Homo sapiens: one gene and its partners. The protein of the gene in region 4 purifies or fractionates together with the protein of the main gene of each other region. This does not show direct contact. Each region holds a gene or a part of one and is shown on either strand. Other genes may lie near its edges.

Region 1 (4,911 bases), on a different chromosome or scaffold from region 4:
GTTCAGAACTTGACCTGAAGGAAGGGAAGAAAAGTATGTGATTTTTACCTTTTTTAACAAATGTGAAAAAGTCAGTTTTAGAAATTTCGTGGTAGTAAGTTCGGCATTTGTTACATGTATAGAGAGAAGACTAATAATCTCTATTTATAACTAAATCATTGAGATAGAAAAAGATTCCCATTGACTGTAGACTTCTTCCCATTTTGTCTTCCCTTCTGCCTGTTTCCCCTTCAGGCTTGGCTCTAGGAACCAAAGTGATTTGTTGTTGTTCCAACCTGGGCTTTGTGACTTTGGTTAGTGCCACTACCTTCTTCCCTCCTTTCCCCCTTCAATTTGGAAATAAATTTCTGTATATGTTGCAATTTTAGGTTTAGGTTTGTTCTTTTTCTTTTTCATTAATCCTCTCTCACCTCACAGATACCCCCTCCCATGGCAAATAATATAATAACCAGTGAATTTTCAGGAATTTAAAAATTAGCTTTTTTCCACTTAAAGGAGAAAAATATTTGGGACTAGCAGCAGAGGCAGTAAGAGATGTGAACCTTGGTGAGCTCTGATACAGTGAGAAGAGATTATACTCATGAAAGAGAATGTTAGTGTTACAGAGAAGCAGCCGATAGCAAATCGACTGTAGAGACTTGGCGGCGGTGGCATTGCCCCAGGTCGTCAGCAGTGTGGTATTATCTATGAGAACTTGAGCGACAGAGTATTTCTTGATGAATTTATAGATCATTTGAGATGTTGAGTTACTTTAGTTTAGTTTTGTTTTGTTTTTTCAAATAAGTAGAGACTATTGTAAAAAACGAGAAAGGAAAATGAAATGTGCGTGTTGATAGCAATAATTTGTTTCTTTTAAAGATTCTAAAAGGTCTGAGACCTGTAGCATTAATTATTTGAGTGCCCTCCCTTCTCCCCTCCCCTCCCTTTTCTCTTCTCTTTTTTCCTCTCCTCTTCTTCTCCTTTATTCATTGTTTTGCTTTTGGAGTGGGTGTTGTTCAAGTATCTGTGGTTTGGTTCTGGCATTTTGTTCCCACCATCCCCTTCCCCCATTAACTTCCCCCCTGCTTGCCATCCTGCAGTAGTATAAATCATGAATAAAAAATAATTTTGCTGTTGTAGTATACATTGGAGAAACTGGCAGGTTTTATTTCCATTATTTTATTTCCACTATATCTATGATAAGATGCAATTATAAGGAGAGAAGTGACTGTTTTTTATTGATAAGGCAAGATTTTCAGAAAAATGAGTAAAATAATTAATGAAACATATTTAGAGCACTTAATGGTCTCTGTTTTCAATATAATTCTTGATTTCATTTTTCTCTGGAATATATTGGCCTTCTACAGCTATTACTGAATTATAGAAACTGGTTTATTTCTGGCAGAAAGCTGCAGTGCCACCTGAGTTCCAAATTTTACCATTCTTTGTAAACAGTTGGATGGATTATGATAAAGAAGATGCTACCAATGAAATAGAAAACCAACGAGATGAGAAGACTGTGATCCTCATGTACTCAGAGGCACTTCCCTCCTAAGTCAAAGACCATCCTCACTGACTATGTGCCAACGCCTCGTTTCAGGCTTGTGACTCAACAAAGGGCTTTTCCATTGATAGAAGCAGTTTGGGATTTGTAGTTGCGACTTCTTCGATAGTTACCTGCACGTCCATTGCTGGCAACTGACTTGTCATTAAAACCTGGCTCTTTGGTTAAGGGAGCTACGCTGTGGTTTATTCTTAAGTTACGTGGATAAACTAACCTCTAACAGAAATATACTTTGGTTAATTTTGAAATGTGTCATTTTTAAACAATCTTAAAAGTAATACAGAATTGTGATTTATTAATTTTAAAACATTCAGAACTTGTTGAAAGAAAAATTATATCTGAATCAAGATTCATGTTTTTTATTTTTATTTTTTTTGATACAGAGTCTCACTCTGTCACTCAGGCTGGAGTGCAGTGACATGATCTCAGCTCACTGCAACCTCCGCTTCCTGGGTTCAAGCAATTCTCATGCCTCAGCCTCCTGAGTAGCTGAGACCACAGGCACCCGCCACCACACCCAGCTATTTTTTTGTATTTTTAGTAGAGACAGAGTCTCACCACATTGCCCAGGCTGGTCTCCAACTCCTGAGCTCAGGCAGTCTGCCCACCTTGGCCTCCCAAAGTGCTGCAGTTACAGGCGTGAGCCACTGCACCTGGCCTCATGTTTTTTAAATAATTGCCTTTTATATTTACCCTTTTTGTCATCACTTTAGAATGAAAATTCCCATTTAAATCTGAAAGTTACCTTAATAGTCCTCTTGTGTTATTAGGACAGTATTATTATAGTACTTATTTATTTTATTTTAGATTTAAAGTTATCTTCTCTTTTTCTTTTTTCTTCTGCTGCTTTTAGGGACAATTAAAACTGGGAAACTATGAAACATGGAACATTTTATCCTACCTGAAAGTAAACGAGTAATTGTGAAGCATAAGACACTGAGGCTAATACAACTCTGTCTTCATGTGTTGACTGCCTGGCACATAGTATTCATTCTCTTCCCTTTAACATAGAAGTGTCCAGCTGCGTACAGTCTAGTAACCAGCAACTGTAAACGAACCTGTGCCTCTAACAAGCGATTCTAAACCACCTATGAGTATTTCTTTTAGGGCTCACTTAAATACATGTTTGTATATACTGTATTCTAGCCAGAATAATTTTAGATCTGATCAGGTAGTAGCTAAAATTAGAAAAAAACAAAATAGATGCTTAAAGAATTTGCATCCATTTTTGAGTCTAAATCTTTTAAAATATACTGAGATCCACATCTAGTGAAATGTCAGTGTCAAAATATTATAGATTATAGCTAAAATCCAGATTAATACTCATTTGGGGTTTTTTATAGTGGAACTTCATAGTAATACAAAAAGCAGATTGTCTTCCTGTCTCCGCTGCTCCCACAGTAGGTATTGAAACTGGTAAAATCAGTTTTTTGATAGTGTGTGTATATAAGAAAAAATAGATACACACATTCTTTTTTCTCAGTCAACACATTGATTGAACACTCTGGCAAAGATGCTGTGGTGGATGAGGTTGGAGTTCGAAAGAAGAAGCAAGCGCTGGCCTGGCCTTGAAAGAACCGAAGTCTTTCCCATTCACTTCTCTAGAAAGCTGCCAAGACAGAGGCAGAAAGAAATGGATGATAGTTCTGTCAAGCACACTTCTGTTCTCTTAGAACTTAGAAGTGTTTCTAAGAGAACAGAAGTAATAAGAGAAACAGTTACGTGTGGAATTCAACATCTTTGGTTGGAACGCATTGGCTTTTTTTTTCTTGTTTTGATAGAAATGGAATTAAGCAAAAGTAGTTTTTGTCTTTTCTGTTGTCTTCAAATTTTATGCCTTTTATTTTTAATTTAATCCCGTTCAATTATTTAATTGTTATACATTGACATTAACTGCTGTATTTTGACTTTGTTCAATAATTTTGTTCTTTCAGGGCTAGAAATAAACTTTTTAAAAAAAGTGTGCATTTTTCCCTTTCCTAAACTTTTATTCTTTCTTTTGATCAGCGTAAAAGAATATTTTAATGTCTTTTGATAGCATAAAAGAATATTTAAATGTCTTAATAGGTTTTCAAAGAACATTTAGTATTTTTAGTGATAAATGTTTTAAACCTTTTAATGGTGTTGTGCCATCATTTTGAATTTATTACAAAGCTCCAAAGTAGGAAGGTTTCTAGAAATGTGTGGGCAGTAAACATGAAGTTTTCCTTTTTTTTTTTTTTTTTTTTTTTTTTGAGACAAGTCTCACTCTTTCTTCCAGGCTGGAGTGCAGTGGCGCCATCTCAGCTCACTGCAACCTCTGCCTCCCAGGTTCAAGTGATTCTCCTGCTTCGGCCTCCTGAGTAGTTAGGGGAAGTTTTCCCTTTCTAAATCAAGTTCAGAATAATTTTCTTTATCAATGTTTCTCTATCAGACCCAGGGAAACAGTTCTGATTTGAACACACACCTTGCTGGAGTAATAAAAACCTGATCAGAATTTCTGTGTTAAGTGAACCAAGAAACCTTTTAGAGTGCAATACGTCGTAAGGCATCACTTCATTATGTGAATTAATTTGGAATCTTAGGTACCCTAACATAGGGAACAGCCACAATAATGGTTTACTATCAAAAAGCATAAAATAAGGCCAGGCGTGGTGGCTCACACCTGTAATCCTAGCACTGGGAGGCTGAGACTGGCGGATTGCCTGAGCTCAGGCAGGAGACCAGCCTGGGCAACATGATGAAATCCCATCTCTACTAAAATACAAAAAAAAATCAGCCAGGTGTACTGGCACATGTCTGTAGTCCCAGCTACTTGGGAGGCTGAGGCACAAGAATTGTTTGAACCCGGGAGGTGAAGGTTGCAGTGAGACAAGATCATGCCATTGCACTCCAGCCTGGGTGACAGAGCAAGACTCCTGTCTCAAAAAGAAAAAAAAAAAAAAAAAAAAAAAAAAAAAAAAAAATATATATATATATATATATATTCTGGGTGAGAAGGGGAGGCAATGACTTTGAAATGTATTTGTTACACTATATGGCTGTTTCGTCTTGTTCTAACATTTATATTTCTTTGAACTAATAGCAAATGCTCAAAGCATTGCCTAAGAAAACTTTTAAAAGCCTGTGGTTAATTTCAGAAGCTCTATCTCTAGGGCTTGGCGGGAGGATGGCTCGAGCCTGGGAGGCAGAGGTTGCAGTGAGCCAAGATGGTGCCGCTGTACTCCAGCCTGGGTGACAGAGCAAGGCCCCTGTCTCAAAAAAAAAAGAGTTGGTAATTGCCTATATCTCTATAAAGAGAATTTTATAGTCTCAATAATCCTGATTATAGCTGTTTTACCCATACATCTTAGTTTGGGGTTAGGGAAAAAGACTAAAAATGCTGCATT
Region 2 (5,254 bases), on a different chromosome or scaffold from region 4:
AGGAATTAAAACAAGCCACATAAACCACAGATAGCACATTTCTTGTGTGTCAATTAATTTTCTTTGATCACCAGAAGCATATGAACAGCTACAGCTGGCATAATTTGACAAAACAACTTGTGCCAGTCTCAATGATTTGACAGTAACTTACTATGGTTGTCACCCCGAACTCTTCTGTATCTGAGTAGAGTGACATTTCTCCTTATCATCCAATTCTACAAACTATAGCAAAACTTCTTGAGCTAGACTGCCTCAAGAATGTATAACAGTTATGTACACAGGTAGAATCATAAGCTGCTATAAAATATGAAATGCCACAGAAGAACAGAGAAGATACTTCAATACACATAGAGACTCATTAGGTAGAAAATGCATTTAAAAGAGTTCCTAAAAAAATTTAAGCTCGAATTGTTTCCCTTACCCCAAAACAAAAACTCAAAAATTCAATCTTGGGGGTATTTTGGAATTCAAACAACATAAATCACATGCTGGCTCAGCTGGAAAATGTTATCTGTTTCCTTAACACCTTTTTCAGTATTCAAAGCACTGCTGTGATGTTTTTCCTGGAATTGCATGTTTGTGTCAAGACAGTGCTGTAGAAGACAAAGGTTCAAAGAGCAAATCTATTTATTCTGCCACTCTCCTCCAATGAGCAAGTGATAATGAGAAATTTAGACAGTTCTGGCCGGGTGCGGTGGCTCATGCCTGTAATCCCAGCACTTTGGGAGGCAGAGATGGGCAGATCACTTGAGCCCAGGAGTTTGAGACCAGCCTGGGCAACAAGGGGGTGGTAAGACCCCACCTCTACAAAAAAAATTTTAAAAATAGCCAGGCTCGGTGGCACGTGCCTGTACTCCCAGCTACTCGGGAGGCTGAGTTGGTAGGACTGCCTGAGCCCAGGGAGATTGAGGCTGCAGTGAGCCATGATCATGCCACTGTGCCCCAGCCTGTGTGACAAAGTGAGACTCTGTCTCAAAAAAAGAAAAAAATAAGAAATTTAGACGGTCCTATGTCCCCAAAGTCCAACAGATAAACTCTTCCCCCAATCCTGCAGAAAAAAGCTAAAAATGGAGAAATAAGTTGCCTCATCAATGTGGCCAACAAAAATGAATTTCTAAAGAAGGCATGGAAAGTGAAGGAAGTCAGTGTCTCACTCTTCACCAGCTACTTCTAAATACTGCCTTAACCAGAGCAGTCCAGGAGCTTGGCTTGCAAAGACAACATACATTTAATACTGCCGCTGATGACAAAACTCACAAGTCACTAGAAGTTTAGCAATGTTCAGAAATGTGTGTACAGCATTGGCACTTGGGTCCAAATGGACCACATCACATGGCAAGGGAGGAAAAAAAAACCAATTGCTCAGGAGACAATGGGATGTGGGTGAGGGAGAGATGGGCATATTTGGCCATCCACTCCCAACACGCTCGAAAGGATTACAATAGTTAGGTTACTGGTAACATCTCTTCCCTAGGTGTGTGACCTTGTCATTTCCACAAATGGTGGCTTCTCTTCTCCCTCCCACAGCACTCAGAGGCATTTTGTCATTAGAAAACCAAAGATTTTAAAGACAGCAGAGTCTTTTCTGCTAGGAAACCCATCTCCTCCTCATGATCGTGTCTTGAGGTCTGAATAAATGTGAATGATAAAGTCACGTTTCAAAACAATACTAAAGTTCAAATATGTTACCATCATTTTGAGGAAGTTAAACAAATTATTAATCTGTATCACCTGTAAATAATATATTTCCTGCATCCTTCATCATGCTTTTTATAAGAAAGAACAAAATGTGAAACAGGAATATCCTGGGAAGATTAAGTTAAAATGTTTGTAAACATGAAAGTATGGTCATTAACACTAATATCAGTTAAAACTACAGTAACAGTAAACAGTAAGTTTGAAGCTGGAAAAAATTAATAGAGTCAAATTTTGAATCTAGTTCTACTTTTATTATCTAGTGAGTCGAGCCATTAAGAAAGAACACAGTGTAATAAAATAGAAAAGTTAGCCCATGAAACACTCCACCTTCTCCCGTCCACATCACAAACATTTCCTAAGGCAATGGAGTTAAAGAAATGAAACAAATCAATAGTTTTGTTCAGAAGACATACTTTGTAACTGAAATTTCTTCAACGTTATTTATTAAGCACCTCCTACATACATAGTCTTCTAACACAGTGACTCTGGAGCTTTGGTGTATGTCAGAATCACCTAGAGGGCTTCCTAAAACAGACTGCTAGGCCCATCCCCATGGTTTCGGATTCAGGATGTCTGGGGTGGCCACCTAAGAAGGCTCCAGGTGCTGCTCCTGTTCCAGGAATCATACTCTGAGAACCACTGTTCTAACAGAAGCACTGAAAGGTCTTTTAGTGGGGGAACAGAGGAGGCAGCAGCACCAGACTTGAGAAGTGAAATATCGAATATTTCAGACGCCGAGGCAATCACTTCAAAAGGGACTTGAATATCCTACAGAGCTTGAACATTTCAGAAACTGCAACTGAACCCTCAGGTGATAAAGGGATTCTGAAGTCACCTTTTTGGAGAACACTCAAATTTCCACTGGGCGAAAAGCATGGGGAAGTATTTAATACTAAGAATCATACTTGGAAATGTAGCCTCACTATTTCAAAAATTTGCTTTTGTCCTTTCCTATTTCCTAACAATTAACTGCAAGTTAAGTTATCGTTCTACCAAACTAGAAATACTGGGAGAAAACCCTGGTTCTTAATTTGAAGATGAAAACTGAATCATCAGGGAACCTTCACGCACTCCTGCTTCTCCCAGCCCTTTAGTGTGTGAAAAACTTTGTTTTGTTGGTAAAGACAATAAAATTTTATTATCAAAGATTGTTTTACTATATAACAGTGCTATTAGACAAGTAGATAACACAATTCCTAATTTCTACATTTTAAAAATATGTATATTTATTCAAATCAATAAACACTATGTTACATTTACTTCTGCCAGATACTAACTATGCTAGGTCCACCATATGTACAAACACAAATAAGATGAGAATTCTGTCCATAAGAAGCCAAGTATTATTTAGGATTACAAACCTTTGGTTAATTTTTCAACATGCTTCTGGAGCTCAATGTCCACATTAAAATGAACATATGTATCTTCTTTTCTTGAAGCCACAGGAGTATCTTGCACAGGAGTTAAGTCTATGCCATTCAGATCTAAAGAGAAAAGAAGTTTCTCTTTAGGAACATTCAAATATACAGACTTAAAAACTGCAGGCCAGGCACGGTGGCTCACGCCTGTAATCCTAGCACTTTGGGAGGCCGAGGCGGGCAGATGACAAGGTCAGGAGATCAAGAACATCCTGGCTAACATGGTGAAACCCCGTCTCTACTAAAAATACAAAAAAAATTAGCCGGGTGTGGTGGCGGGCGCCTATAGTCCCAGCTACTCGGGAGGCTCAGGCAGGAGAATGGCGTGAACCCAGGAGGCGGAGCTTGCAGTGAGCCGAGATCGCACCACTGCACTCCAGCCTGGGCAAAAGAGCTAGACTCTGTCTCAAAAAAACAAAAACCTGCAAACTAGGTAGGGCACGGTGGCTCACACCTGTAACCCCAGAACTTTGGGAGGCTGAGGCGGGTGGATCACTTAAGGTCAGGAGTTCAAGACTAGCCTGACCAACATGGGGAAACCCCATCTCTACTAAAAATACAAAAAAAATTAGCCAGGCGTGGTGGTGCACACCTGTAATCCCAGCTACTTGGGAGGCTGAGGCAGGAGAATCTCTTGAATCCGGGAGGCAGAGGTTGCAGTGAGCCAAGATCGCGCCACTGCACTCCAGCCTGGGCAGTAAGAGTGAAACTCTGTGTCAAAAAAACAAAAAACAAACAAAAAAACCCTGTCAACTACAGGGCGTATATTTCATAAGGATGCTTGCAGAAAGGTAAGAGGAAATTCTTGGGCTAACAGAAATTCCCATTTGGTGTGAGCAGGTACCTGAAGAGTTGCAGGTGACCACAGAGGCATGTGGAGGGGGCTGAGTGAGGGGATGGGAGATTTCGCGGTGGGAAGGAGGAAACCTGTCTCAATCAGGTACAAAAGAAAGCTTGTAGAACACAAAATTTCATCTTTATAGGGAAGAAGTGAAAAGAACTTTTTGTTTTCCTTAGGAGATAGGCCACTATATTTTTGTCTGCAATAAAAACTTAGAATGTAAATAATATGCCTCAATGGGACCTTACCCCTAATTTCCAAACTTGATCAAGTGTATGGTTTGGAAAGACCTTTAAATCTAACATTATCAGAATCCCCCTGCTGTATTCAAGTCAAAGGACCAAAAATGGACATGAAAATTGCCAATGAAACCCTTCCATCAATGAATACGTTTTTACAAATATTATCTAAATTCTCATTATATTTGTTGTAACAACCTGTTTTATACCAACTAGAAAGAACACTAAGTTATTGTGTATGGTTTTAATTTCCTGGACCCAGGAATCTTCCAGTTTAATCAAATTCAACATGGACTCATTTAATGACTACTCAAGTGTTTATGTATTATTCAACAGATTTGTCTTAGAGAACTTAAAACAATATAGTACATTGATTGTTTCAGTTCTTAAAGATATTTACAAAAACATGTTTTAGTTCAACATGTATGCAAAGGTAACTTAACAGTTACTACACTATCATTAAACATCTTTTTGTTTTGGTGTACATTCCTGCATGAGTTACGCAGTTCTGTAAATGACCTATCAAACTATAATGTAGAGTATATATACTTTCCAGTAGGCCATATATTTGATACCTGATAACATCAGAAGTTAAAGTTTCACAGCATTAATGCTGTGGATCACGGTCTCCAAATAATCCCTCTCTGTGGCAGAATTCCTTTTTATTTTAATTGGTACTAATGAACTTTTGAATCTGAATTTATTTCTATGACTGACAAAAGTTCTCTTCATTTGATTTCAGCCCCTATCTGTTTCTCTGACTTGCCTCAAATTACAGATTAAAGTAAACCACTTGGATTAGCTGTGCAGTTGTTTCTGGATAGGAGTATGACAACTTCATTCTCAATCACCCAATAATTATTTTTAAAAGACTGTTAACTACTTCATAAATAAAGTACTGTATAAAATGTTTGGCAACAATAAAAGAATTCAACCAATGTGGTTTCCCTTTGAAAGACTGAAAATGTTGTTTTTAAGGAATAAATGAACTGCCACACTGGATAGGAGAAAAAAACCAAATCCTAAGAATAATCATGCTTCCTAACCACAGTAACATA
Region 3 (5,265 bases), on a different chromosome or scaffold from region 4:
ACATTGTGATGAGCTCTGAGTTGTATTAAGGAATTTGAACTTTTCATCTGGGGAGTAATAGGATCCAGTCTAGCTTCCAAAAGCTGCCCCTACCAGCCACATGGGGGCCCCTGAAAGCAGGGTTTCAGCCCTGCTGTAGTTCCTCAACTCCCCACAGGTGTATCTAGGAAGGCTTCTGCCCTGGCTGGGCCTGCCCTAATGCCTGAACCAGTCCTGACCAGGGCAGGAGGTATGGCAAAATCAGGGGCTTTGGCCTCACCATCTGCCCATGCAGATGCCTATGCCACAGCAGCTTCCTATTTTCTCCCTTCCTAGTCCCTAGTCCTAGGGAATAGGATTTTACCTCAGTGTCCCTACCTGCTGAGCCTGGGACCCTATTCTTTTTTTTTTTTTTTTTTTTGAGACAGGGTCTCACTGTGTTGCCCAGGCTGGAGTGCAGTGGCAATCTCAGCTCACTGCAACCTCCACCTCCCGGGTTCAAGAAATTCTCATGCCTCAGCCTCCCAAGGCGCTGGAACTACAGGCATGTGCCACCATGTCCGGGTAATTTTTGTATTTTTTGGTAGAGACGGGGTTTCACTGTGTTGATCAGGCTGGTTTCGAACTCCTGACCTCAAGTGATCCGCCCACCTCGGCCTCCCAAAGTGCTAAGATTACAGGCGTGAGCGACTGCACCCAGCCCTGGGGCCCTGTTCTTATCCTCAGCCCACTTGGTTTTCCCATCCCTAGGGAGCTAGTTTCAGTTCTCTATACTTCTTAGCCACAGGCTGGGCTCCTGCTAAACAGCAGGTCACCCGGAAACATAACATCACTACTTGTGCACCACAGCACTGCCACTCACCCAGAATCTGGGCATCATTCTTGATCCCTTCGTCTCCCCCCAGGTCCTGTTGATTTTGCCCCCCGAATGCCCCTCAAATCATTCTCTTCTTTCCATCTCCCCTGCCACTGCTATAGACCAGACCCCTCTAGCCTCTCACCCAGGCAACTGCAGCAGTCTCCTAAAGGAGCAACTCGCCTCCAGCTGCTCGGCAGTCAAGTGACCTTTGAAACACAGATCAGATCTTCTCACTCTCCATGGGATCACTGGCTTCCAGGATGTTAAGGATAAAGTCCCCAATTCCTTAACATGCGTGAGGATGCCATGCCCAATCTCCAGCCTCATCTCAAACACCAGCCCCCATTCTCTGAGCTCCAGACACAATGGTCTTTCCCTTCCTGAAGCCCATCCAAGACACCCCGCCCTTTTTGTTGCTTTAGGACCTCTCCTATTGACACACTGGGCCTCCTTGTTTGGAATGGTGACCTGTCCATATAAGTGTGCCATACCCTTTGGACACAGTGCTTTAGACAGCAGGATGTCTAAAGACACTGGGTGACTCTACCCCCAGTCAGTGTCCCCAGCTATCCTTCTGCTCAACCACCTCCCTGGCCACCCCCATGGCTGAGGTCCCAGCATGGCCTGCCTGTGAGAAAGTCCCATTCAGACACAGAACACCAGTGAAGTGGCTACCACATCCTCTGGCCCCTGTTTCCAAGACCTTTCTGAAGGGCAAGGAAGCAGGGGACAGTGGAAGGAACATAAGGTTTGCTTTTGACAGCTCTGGGTTTGAATCCTGATTCTGCTACTCATTAGCTGTGTGACTCTGGGCAGGTTGCTTAACCTGTCTGAGACCCTTTTCCTGCTCTGTAATATGAATAGTCCGGTAGTTAAGAATGTGGGCTTTGAAATCTGAGTGCTTGGATGTAAATTCCTCTTGCCACTGTATACTATCCTAGAGCTCTGAGCTTTAGTCTCATGAGAAAATGGGAATAATAATCAGTACCTCATGGACTGTTGTGAGAAGTACGATATCGCAAGTGCTTAGCACAAGTATGAGTAATTATTATCATGGAAATCATCTAGCATTGTGTTCGACACATTAGGGGGACTCCATAATTATTAGTTCACCACCACCCTCTCTTTTCCCAAGTCAAGCAAGATCCACATGCCACCAAGTCCTGACGACATGGAGACTTCAATTCCAGGTCTCTTCACAGATCTGGGTGTGGGTATACTACCCAAAAGGCAGTGTTCATGAGCCAAGAGAAATGGCTTCCTTCTCATAGGAACATTGCTCAGCTGAAAGGCCGTTTACACCTGACAATAACCCAGTAAGGGTGGAGGAATTCCTTTCTGAAGATTTACTCATTCATAAAAAGTTCTCCAGGTACAAAACAACAACAAAAAAGGTATTCTCAAAACTGTAGCCTGGCAGAGTGAGTCTGAGAGATGCGGACCAGCCAGCCACGCCTGGGAACGCTGTTGGCCTCTCTGGGAATGGCATCTACCAGGAAAGCAGCCAGGGATGTCAGATAACAGAAACCCCAGAGGTGGCATGGGAACATTTGAGGGAGTAAAGAACTGGCAACTCAAGGTAGGGGGAAGGTACAAGGGACACGGAGGCTTGAAGCAGGATAGTACAGGCTACAACACAGAGTGCTGAGGAAGGGGTGGGTGGGGAAGGAAAGCAGGAAACAATGAGAACGGAGGAAGAGCCCCGCTAACTTCTCTCAGCTGCTCTGCATTTAGACAAGGGATATTCCCCACTCCGCACCAATACCAGGTCCAGTTACTCTCAGGCTGTCCTAGGGTCTCTCCCACCACCTGCCTCTACAAACAAAGCTGCTATCCAGGGCCAGGGTCAACATGAGGCTGGGTGCAGTGGCTCACGCCTGTAATCCCAACACCTTGGGAGGTGGAGGGGGGTGGATCGCTTGAGTCCAGGAGTTTGAGATCAGCCTGGGCAACATAGTGAGACCTCCATCTCTAATTTTTTTTTAAAGGGTCATCATGTAATGTCTAGGAAGGCTAGACTCACATGCAGGGAGGGGCCCTCCCTGAGCCACAGCATGAGGCCCCACCACCAACACAGTGGTCATGGGTTTGGTTTTAGCAGAGCTTGTTCAAAGAGTATTCCAAGGTGGCTATGGGGAAGAACCAGGTAAGACTTGGCAGACTGTTCTCTCCAGCTCCAGAGTAGAAGTTCATGGAAGAAATGTTCCACAATGCTACAGAAGGTGCTGGTGCCCCCAGAGGCAGCCACGTCCCTCAGTCATCCTAGAGAAATCCAAGGGGTAAAGAGATGTGGAGACAGCACATGTCATAAACGTCACTGCAAGTTATCAGACAAACAAGGGTTCAATTGCGTGGTACCTGTGGGGCCCATGAGTGCTTGCCTGGGCGCCTCATTAGAGCTGGCCCGGCAGCTCCAACAGCTCTTGGACTGTTTTTCAGTCCAAGATTCGCTTTATGAAGACAAAAAGGAATCCAGACACTCTCATCTGCGTGCGCCTGCTTTCTCTGGCAAAAGACATCATCTCCATTACCTAGATAAATAGTGCATTTTTCTGTGACTTCGTTGCTTCAGATGTTCATTTTGAGGCCAGGTGTGGTGGCTCAAGCCCGTAATCCCAGCACTTTGGGAGCCTGAGGCAGGTGGATCACCCGAGGTCGGGAATTCGAGACCAACCAGCCCAACATGGAGAAACCTCGTCTCTACTAAAAATACAAAATTAGCCAGGCATGGTGGCGCATGCCTGTAATCCCAGCACTTTGGGAGGCTGAGGCAGGAGAATTGCTTGAACCCGGGAGGCAAAGGTTGCAGTGACCTGAGATGGCGCCATTGCACTCCAGCCTGGGCAATAAGAGTGAAACTCCGTCTCAAAAAAATAAAATAAAATAAAATAATAAATGTTCATTTTGGGGCCTTATGACATCAATTCAAGTCTTTGGGTAAAATATACTTCAGAAAAACAACTGTGAACCTGGGCAACATGGCAAAACCTCGTCTCTACAAAAAATAAAAAAATTAGCCAGGCGTGGTGATGCATGCCTATAGTCCCAGCTACTTGGGAGGCTGAGGTGGGAGGATCATTTGAGCCCAGGAGTTCGAGGCTGCAGTGAGCCATGATCGTGCCCCTGCACTCCAGCCTGGGCAACAGAATGAGACTCCATCTCCCAAAAAAAGAGAAAAGAAATGAAAAGAAAAGCAACTGTGAATAGGCTGAGGATCAACGTGGGGACTGACTCTCATCAAAAGAAAAACCAGTAAGGACCAGGTCAGCCATTCTCCAGACACTTCAGGCAAGGAGCCCAAACCAAAGGAGGAAAAACTACGCATTCAGTTGTTCAACTGCCTCAGCATGGTTAATGTATTCACTTGAAGTAGAAATGTTTTGAGACTTAATGACCATGATTAATATCCCTCTGCACCCCCTCCTTCCTACCACTTGGGAATCTTTGGGGAATAGTTAGGTTCAGAGCCACCTACAAGAAAGGTCCCAGGTTGTCATTCTTCATACCTTAGAGGAATTCTCCTGATGCTAACACATTCCCAGGTGTTTCACAGAATTCCACTAAAGCTGGGGGGTAAGATTCATCCTGTCGTCTTCTCATCCTACCCACAACCTCAACCAGTATGTACCATGCTCCTGCCAGGAGATACAACTGCACCAACACCAGGTACCTACCCACTCCTCGTCCTCTGCCCCATCCCCCTGCTCTCGGATCTCCGCTGCAGCCCCCTTCGAACACTTTTGGGCCATGATGTTGTCTGTCCAGGATGCCCCTGTCTTTCCATCACCAGTGAAATTACACTTGGTCACTGTTCCAGCCTCAAGTTTGGCCAATGAATCTGAAAGAAGAGATGAAATTGAATGTCCTCTGTCCCTGTGGCAGAAACATAGTGAGGGCTGGGCCCATTATGGTGGGGTCCCCTAGGCCTGGGTTAAACCACTGTTTTCTCCAGGCATAGATGTGGTCAATGAGCCCCTGGGTGGGACCCCCAAGGTATGGTGGGAGAGTCGCTCACAGGAACCATGGGATTGGGTGGCACCCGGGGATCCAGGCTGTCGAGCCCAATGGCCCTAGGGCACTTGTGCAGGGATTTAGGAGTAAATCTCAAGGGCTTGGTCGTGTCCCCATGGAGGCCAGCCCTTGCCTGCTCCCATGAGCTCTAGGCAGAAGGGAGGCCAAGAGCCCCCATGGGCCACACAGGAACAGTGGGCCACAGTGAGGGTTGCATTGCTCACCCAGGAAGGGACCATCGCCCCGAGTCTTCAGCCGTACCCCGGCCCCCAGCTCGAGTTCCATCACCTCCATCTCTGACTCGGGCATCCAGAACGCCACTGTGTGGTCGGGGGTGAGGCTCTCTGTCAGCGCGAGCAGCTCTGGCTTGTTGACCAGCCCCTTCAGCGCCTCGGGCGTGAGCCTGTCAGTGTCCC
Region 4 (4,504 bases):
AGCTGGGGGTTGGGGAAACAGGTTAACAGCTGATGTGACACGTTACACTTTTGTCCACGCAGTGGCTTCCTCTAGTTGGCCAGTCATCCTGAAGCCAAAGAAGTTGCCAAAGCCTCCTGCCAAGCTTCCAAAGCCACCCGTTGGACCCAAGCCAGGTTGGGGTCCCCCCCATATCCCACCCTCACCTGATGGCAGGCCAGCCTCAGCCCTCATCTGACTTTTTTTTTTTTTTTTGAGACAGTCTCACTCTGTCGCCCAGGCTGGAGTGCAGTGGCACAACCTTGGCTCACTGCAAGCTCCGCCTCCTGGGTTCACGCCATTCTCCTGCCTCAGCCTCTCCAGTAGCTGGGACTACAGGTGCCCGCCACCATGCCCAGCTAATTTTTTTTTTTGTATTTTTAGTAGAGACGGGGTTTCACCATGTTAGCCAGGATGGTCTTGATCTCCTGACCTCGTGATCCGCCCACCTCGGCCTCCCAAAGTGCTGGGATTACAGGCGTGAGCCACCGCACCCAGCTCATCTGTCTTTATTGTTGTTTTTTGTTTTGAGATGGAGTCTCACTCTGTTGCCCAGGCAGTGGCGCGATCTCAGCTCACTGCAACCTCTGTCTGCCGGGTTCAAGTGATTCTCCTGCCTCAGCCTCCCAAGTAGCTGGGATTACAGGCACCTGCCACCACGTCCATCTAATTTTTGTATTTTTAGTAGAGAAGGGGTTTCACCATGTTGCCCAGGCTGGTCTCGAACTCCTGACCTCAAGTGATCCACCCACCTCAGCCTCCCAAAGTGCTGGGATTACCGGCGTGAGCCACCACACCTGGCCTCATCTGTCTTCTCTTCCAGAGCCCAAAGTCTTTAATGGTGGCTTGGGCAGGAAGCTGCCAGTCAGTTCAGCCCAGCCTCTCTTCCCCACAGCCGGTAAGGGGTCTGCGGGGTCAGTGCGGGGCGGGCTTCCCAGGTGTGTGACCGTACAGTCACACAAGTCCCCACACTCCGAAGCGCCCTGTCTTTTAAGGTTCTGCTGTCTCTGTCTTGAAATTCTTAATGCCTTCGAGCACACTGTCCTGTTGCACGGGGCCCTGCAAATCTGTAGCTGGTCCTGGGTGGCTGTCAGGGCGGTGGGCATGGACTGGGGATCCCTGAGCCAGCTGCAGCTCCTGGTCCTGAACCCCCAGGGCTGGCAGACATGACGGCAGAGCTACAGAAGAAGCTGGAGAAGAGGCGGGCACTGGAGCACTGATTCGGACACACCAGGGACCAGCGGGCTAGTCCCAGGGCATGGCCCAGCGGCCAGATTCTTTTTCCCAGGATTAAAACTCTGACCCCAGGACCCATGTGTCTGGCTTGGCTTGGGGGATTAGGGGACGAGGGGTCCGTCAGATGTCTGCCTACGGATGGCCCCATTTACTCCCAGTGACCCTCAGCTCAGTGAAATCTACCACCATATTCTGTGAGAAAAGCCCATTTTACAGCTGGGAAGGATGAGGTCCCGGTGCCACACCCAGGCCCAAAGAACCAGCACCGCGGCCTCGCCTGGCCAGTGTCTGACCTTTATTAAGAGGTGAGGTGGGGAGAGGGCCCGCCAGGGTGCCCACTCCCTCTTGGTGACCCCCCCATCTGGAGTTAAGGCTCCAAGCAGCAAGTGACAGAGGAGGGTGCCTGGCTCCAGCAGCCTGGGCTTGGCGGCGACTCCCCCAAAAACACCCCAGCTGGGTGGGTGCCTGGGGGCCTAGGTGAGGCTGGTGTTGGAGCTGCTGGTAGCACTGCCTCGCTTTTGCAGGCAGCGCACAGCACTGGGGACCTGCAGGCCTGTCGTCACCTGGAAGCTGCCACACCATACCTGAGGGACAGCGGGGGGAGGGGGGAGGGGCTCAGCTTCAAACCCCAGCGCCCAGCACCACCCTCTCCTCCCCCTGGGCCGCGGAGGGCAGCTCACCGTGAAAGCAGGCAGCAGCGGCTGTGTGAACCTGGTCTTGAAAGTGTGCAGCACTTGTTTGGTGCGGGCATTGTAGAAGGACAGGAGGCCTGGGGTCGGGGGGCAGAGTGACAGTGGGACCGGTCAGAAGTGGGATGGGGGCAGACGGAGGGGACTCAGGCAGGGGCAGCCAGAGACGGCAGCTGGGGCTTGGGGTCACCTTGGTGGAAGTCACAGTGCACACCCAGGCAGTCGGGCACGGGGGCGTCCAGCACCTTGACCTTGTTGGCGTGCTTGGCCGTGAAGCTGACCTGCAGCCAATTGTTGACGTGCAGGCACCAGGAGGCGGCCGTCTTGCCCAGTTGCTCGAAGCGGCCCAGGCTGCGGTAGGCCACGCCCACGCCGAACGCCTTGCTGTCCGGCTCGTAGCGCACCTCCCAGTAATGCTCCCCGCCGTCGATCAGCGTGTCCCCTGTGGCGCAGGGCAGGAGGGGTGGGCAGGGGAACTGGATAGAACTGGGCCACAGATGCCCTTCCACAAAGGGCCAGCCCCCAAGGTGCTCCTTACACCACAGCTGCTCCCTGCAGAGACACTCCCCAGGTTCCTAGCTGTACCCCCCAGATACTCCTCAGGTTCCCAGCTATTCCCCTCAGGTACCCCTTGAACCCCAGCTATTCCCTTCAGATACGCCTCAAGTTCCTAGCTATTCCCTCCAGATACTCCTTGGGCCCCAGCTATTCCCTCCAGATACTCCTTGGGCCGCAGCTATTCCCCCCAGATACTCCTTGGGCCCCAGCTATTCCCTCCAGATACTCCTTGGGCCCCAGCTATTCCCTCCAGATACACCTTGGGCCACAGCTATTCCCTCCAGATACTCCTTGGGCCCCAGCTATTCCCTCCAGATACTCCTTCGGACCCAGCTATTCCCTCCAGATACTCCTCGGTTCCTGCTATATCCTCCAGATACTCCTCGGTTCCTGCTATTCCCTCCAGATACTCCTCGGTTCCTGCTATTCCCTCCAGATACTCCTTGGTTCCTGCTATTCCCTCCAGATACTCCTTGGGCTCCAGCTATTCCTCCCAGATACTCCTCGGGATCCCAGCTATCCCCTCCAGATACTTCTTGGGGACCCAGCTATCCGCCCCCCCAGATACTCCTCAGGATCCCAGCTATTCCCCCCAGATAATCATTGAGGACCCAGCTGTTCCTCTCAGATACTCCTTGGGCCCCAGCTAATTCTCCCAGATACTCCTTGAGGTCCAAGTTATCCCTCCCAGATACTCCTCGGGATCCCAGCTATCCCCTCCAGATACTTCTTGGGGACCCAGCTATTCCCCCCAGATATTCCTCAGGATCCCAGCTATTCCCCCCGATAATCCTTGAGGACCCAGCTGTTCCTCTCAGATACTCCTTGGGCCCCAGGTAATTCTCCCAGATACTCCTTGGGGTCCAAGTTATTCCTCCCAGATACTCCTCGGGATCCCAGCTATCCCCCCGCCAGATACTTCTTGGGGACCCAGCTATTCCCCCCAGATATTCCTCAGGATCCCAGCTATTCTTCCCAGATAATCCTTGAGGACCCAGCTATTTCTCCCAGATACTCCTTGGGGACCCAGCTATTTCCCCCAGATACTCCTCGGGATCCAAGTTATTCCTCCCAGATACTCCTCAGGGTCCCAGCTATTCCCCTCAGATACTCCTTGGGCCCCAGCTATTTCCCCCCAGATACTCCTTGGACTCCAGTTATTCCCTCCAAATACTTGGGTCCCAGCTATTCCCTCCAGATACTCCTTGGGCCCCAGTAATTCCCTTCAGATATGCCTCAGTCTCTGCTAGTCCCTCCAGATACTTCTCTGGCTTGAGCCATTCCTCCCAGATACTCCTCGGGGATCCAGCTATTTCCCCCAGATACTTCTCAGTCCCAGCTATTCCCCCCAGATACTCCTCAGTCCCAGCTATTTCCCCAGATACTCCTCAGTCCCAGCTATTCCCCTCCAGATACTCCTCAGTCCCAGCTATTTCCACAGATACTCCTCAGTCCCAGCTATTCCCCTCCAGATACTCCTCAGTCCCAGCTATTTCCCCAGATACTCCTCAGTCCCAGCTATTCCCCTCCAGATACTCCTCAGTCCCAGCTATTTCCACAGATACTCCTCAGTCCCAGCTATTCCCCTCCAGATACTCCTCAGTCCCAGCTGTTTCCCCCAGATACTCCTCAGTCCCAGCTATTCCCCCCAGATACTCCTCAGGCTGCAGTTATTCCCTCCAGATGCTCCTCAGGTCCCAGCTATTCCCCCCAGATACTCCTCAGTCCCAGCTATTCCCCTCCAGGTACTCCTCAGTCCCAGCTATTTCCCCAGATACTCCTCAGTCTCAGCTATTTCCCTCCAGATACTCCCCAGTCCCAGCGATTCCCCTCCAGATACTCCTCAGTCCCAGCTATTCCCCTCCAGATACTCCTCAGTCCCAACTATTTCCCCCAGATACTCCTCAGTCCCAGCGATTCCCCTCCAGATACTCCTCAGTCTCAGCTATTCCCCCCAGATACTCCTCAGTCCCAGCTATTTCCCCGGATACTCCTCAGTCCCA

What was found. Proteins that work in one complex are often made in the same cells at the same time.
Region 1: the proteins of FSD1 (region 4) and PAK2 purify together in Homo sapiens (affinity purification with mass spectrometry; 3 studies listed by BioGRID and IntAct, with this or other methods). This does not show direct contact.
Region 2: the proteins of FSD1 (region 4) and AIDA purify together in Homo sapiens (affinity purification with mass spectrometry; 3 studies listed by BioGRID and IntAct, with this or other methods). This does not show direct contact.
Region 3: the proteins of FSD1 (region 4) and ARPIN purify together in Homo sapiens (affinity purification with mass spectrometry; 3 studies listed by BioGRID and IntAct, with this or other methods). This does not show direct contact.

Annotation. Positions count from the first base shown.
Region 1 is NC_000003.12:196,828,986-196,833,896, forward strand, and holds the end of PAK2 (serine/threonine-protein kinase PAK 2), read left to right. Parts: 3' UTR 1-3,662; downstream 3,663-4,911. UniProt on the Homo sapiens protein: Serine/threonine protein kinase that plays a role in a variety of different signaling pathways including cytoskeleton regulation, cell motility, cell cycle progression, apoptosis or proliferation.
Region 2 is NC_000001.11:222,670,254-222,675,507, forward strand, and holds part of AIDA (axin interactor, dorsalization-associated protein), read right to left. Parts: intron 3,183-5,254; coding exon 3,060-3,182; intron 1-3,059. UniProt on the Homo sapiens protein: Acts as a ventralizing factor during embryogenesis. Inhibits axin-mediated JNK activation by binding axin and disrupting axin homodimerization. This in turn antagonizes a Wnt/beta-catenin-independent dorsalization pathway activated by AXIN/JNK-signaling.
Region 3 is NC_000015.10:89,898,704-89,903,968, forward strand, and holds part of ARPIN (arpin), read right to left. Parts: coding exon 5,074-5,265; intron 4,677-5,073; coding exon 4,513-4,676; intron 3,101-4,512; coding exon 3,092-3,100; 3' UTR 1-3,091. Other genes in the region: ARPIN-AP3S2 (uncharacterized protein LOC100526783), read right to left, coding at 4,513-4,676, 5,074-5,265. UniProt on the Homo sapiens protein: Regulates actin polymerization by inhibiting the actin-nucleating activity of the Arp2/3 complex; the function is competitive with nucleation promoting factors.
Region 4 is NC_000019.10:4,320,867-4,325,370, reverse strand, and holds the end of FSD1 (fibronectin type III and SPRY domain-containing protein 1), read right to left. Parts: intron 2,386-4,504; coding exon 2,134-2,385; intron 2,024-2,133; coding exon 1,935-2,023; intron 1,839-1,934; coding exon 1,728-1,838; 3' UTR 1,535-1,727; downstream 1-1,534. Other genes in the region: STAP2 (signal-transducing adaptor protein 2), read left to right, coding at 63-155, 704-916, 1,174-1,238. UniProt on the Homo sapiens protein: May be involved in microtubule organization and stabilization.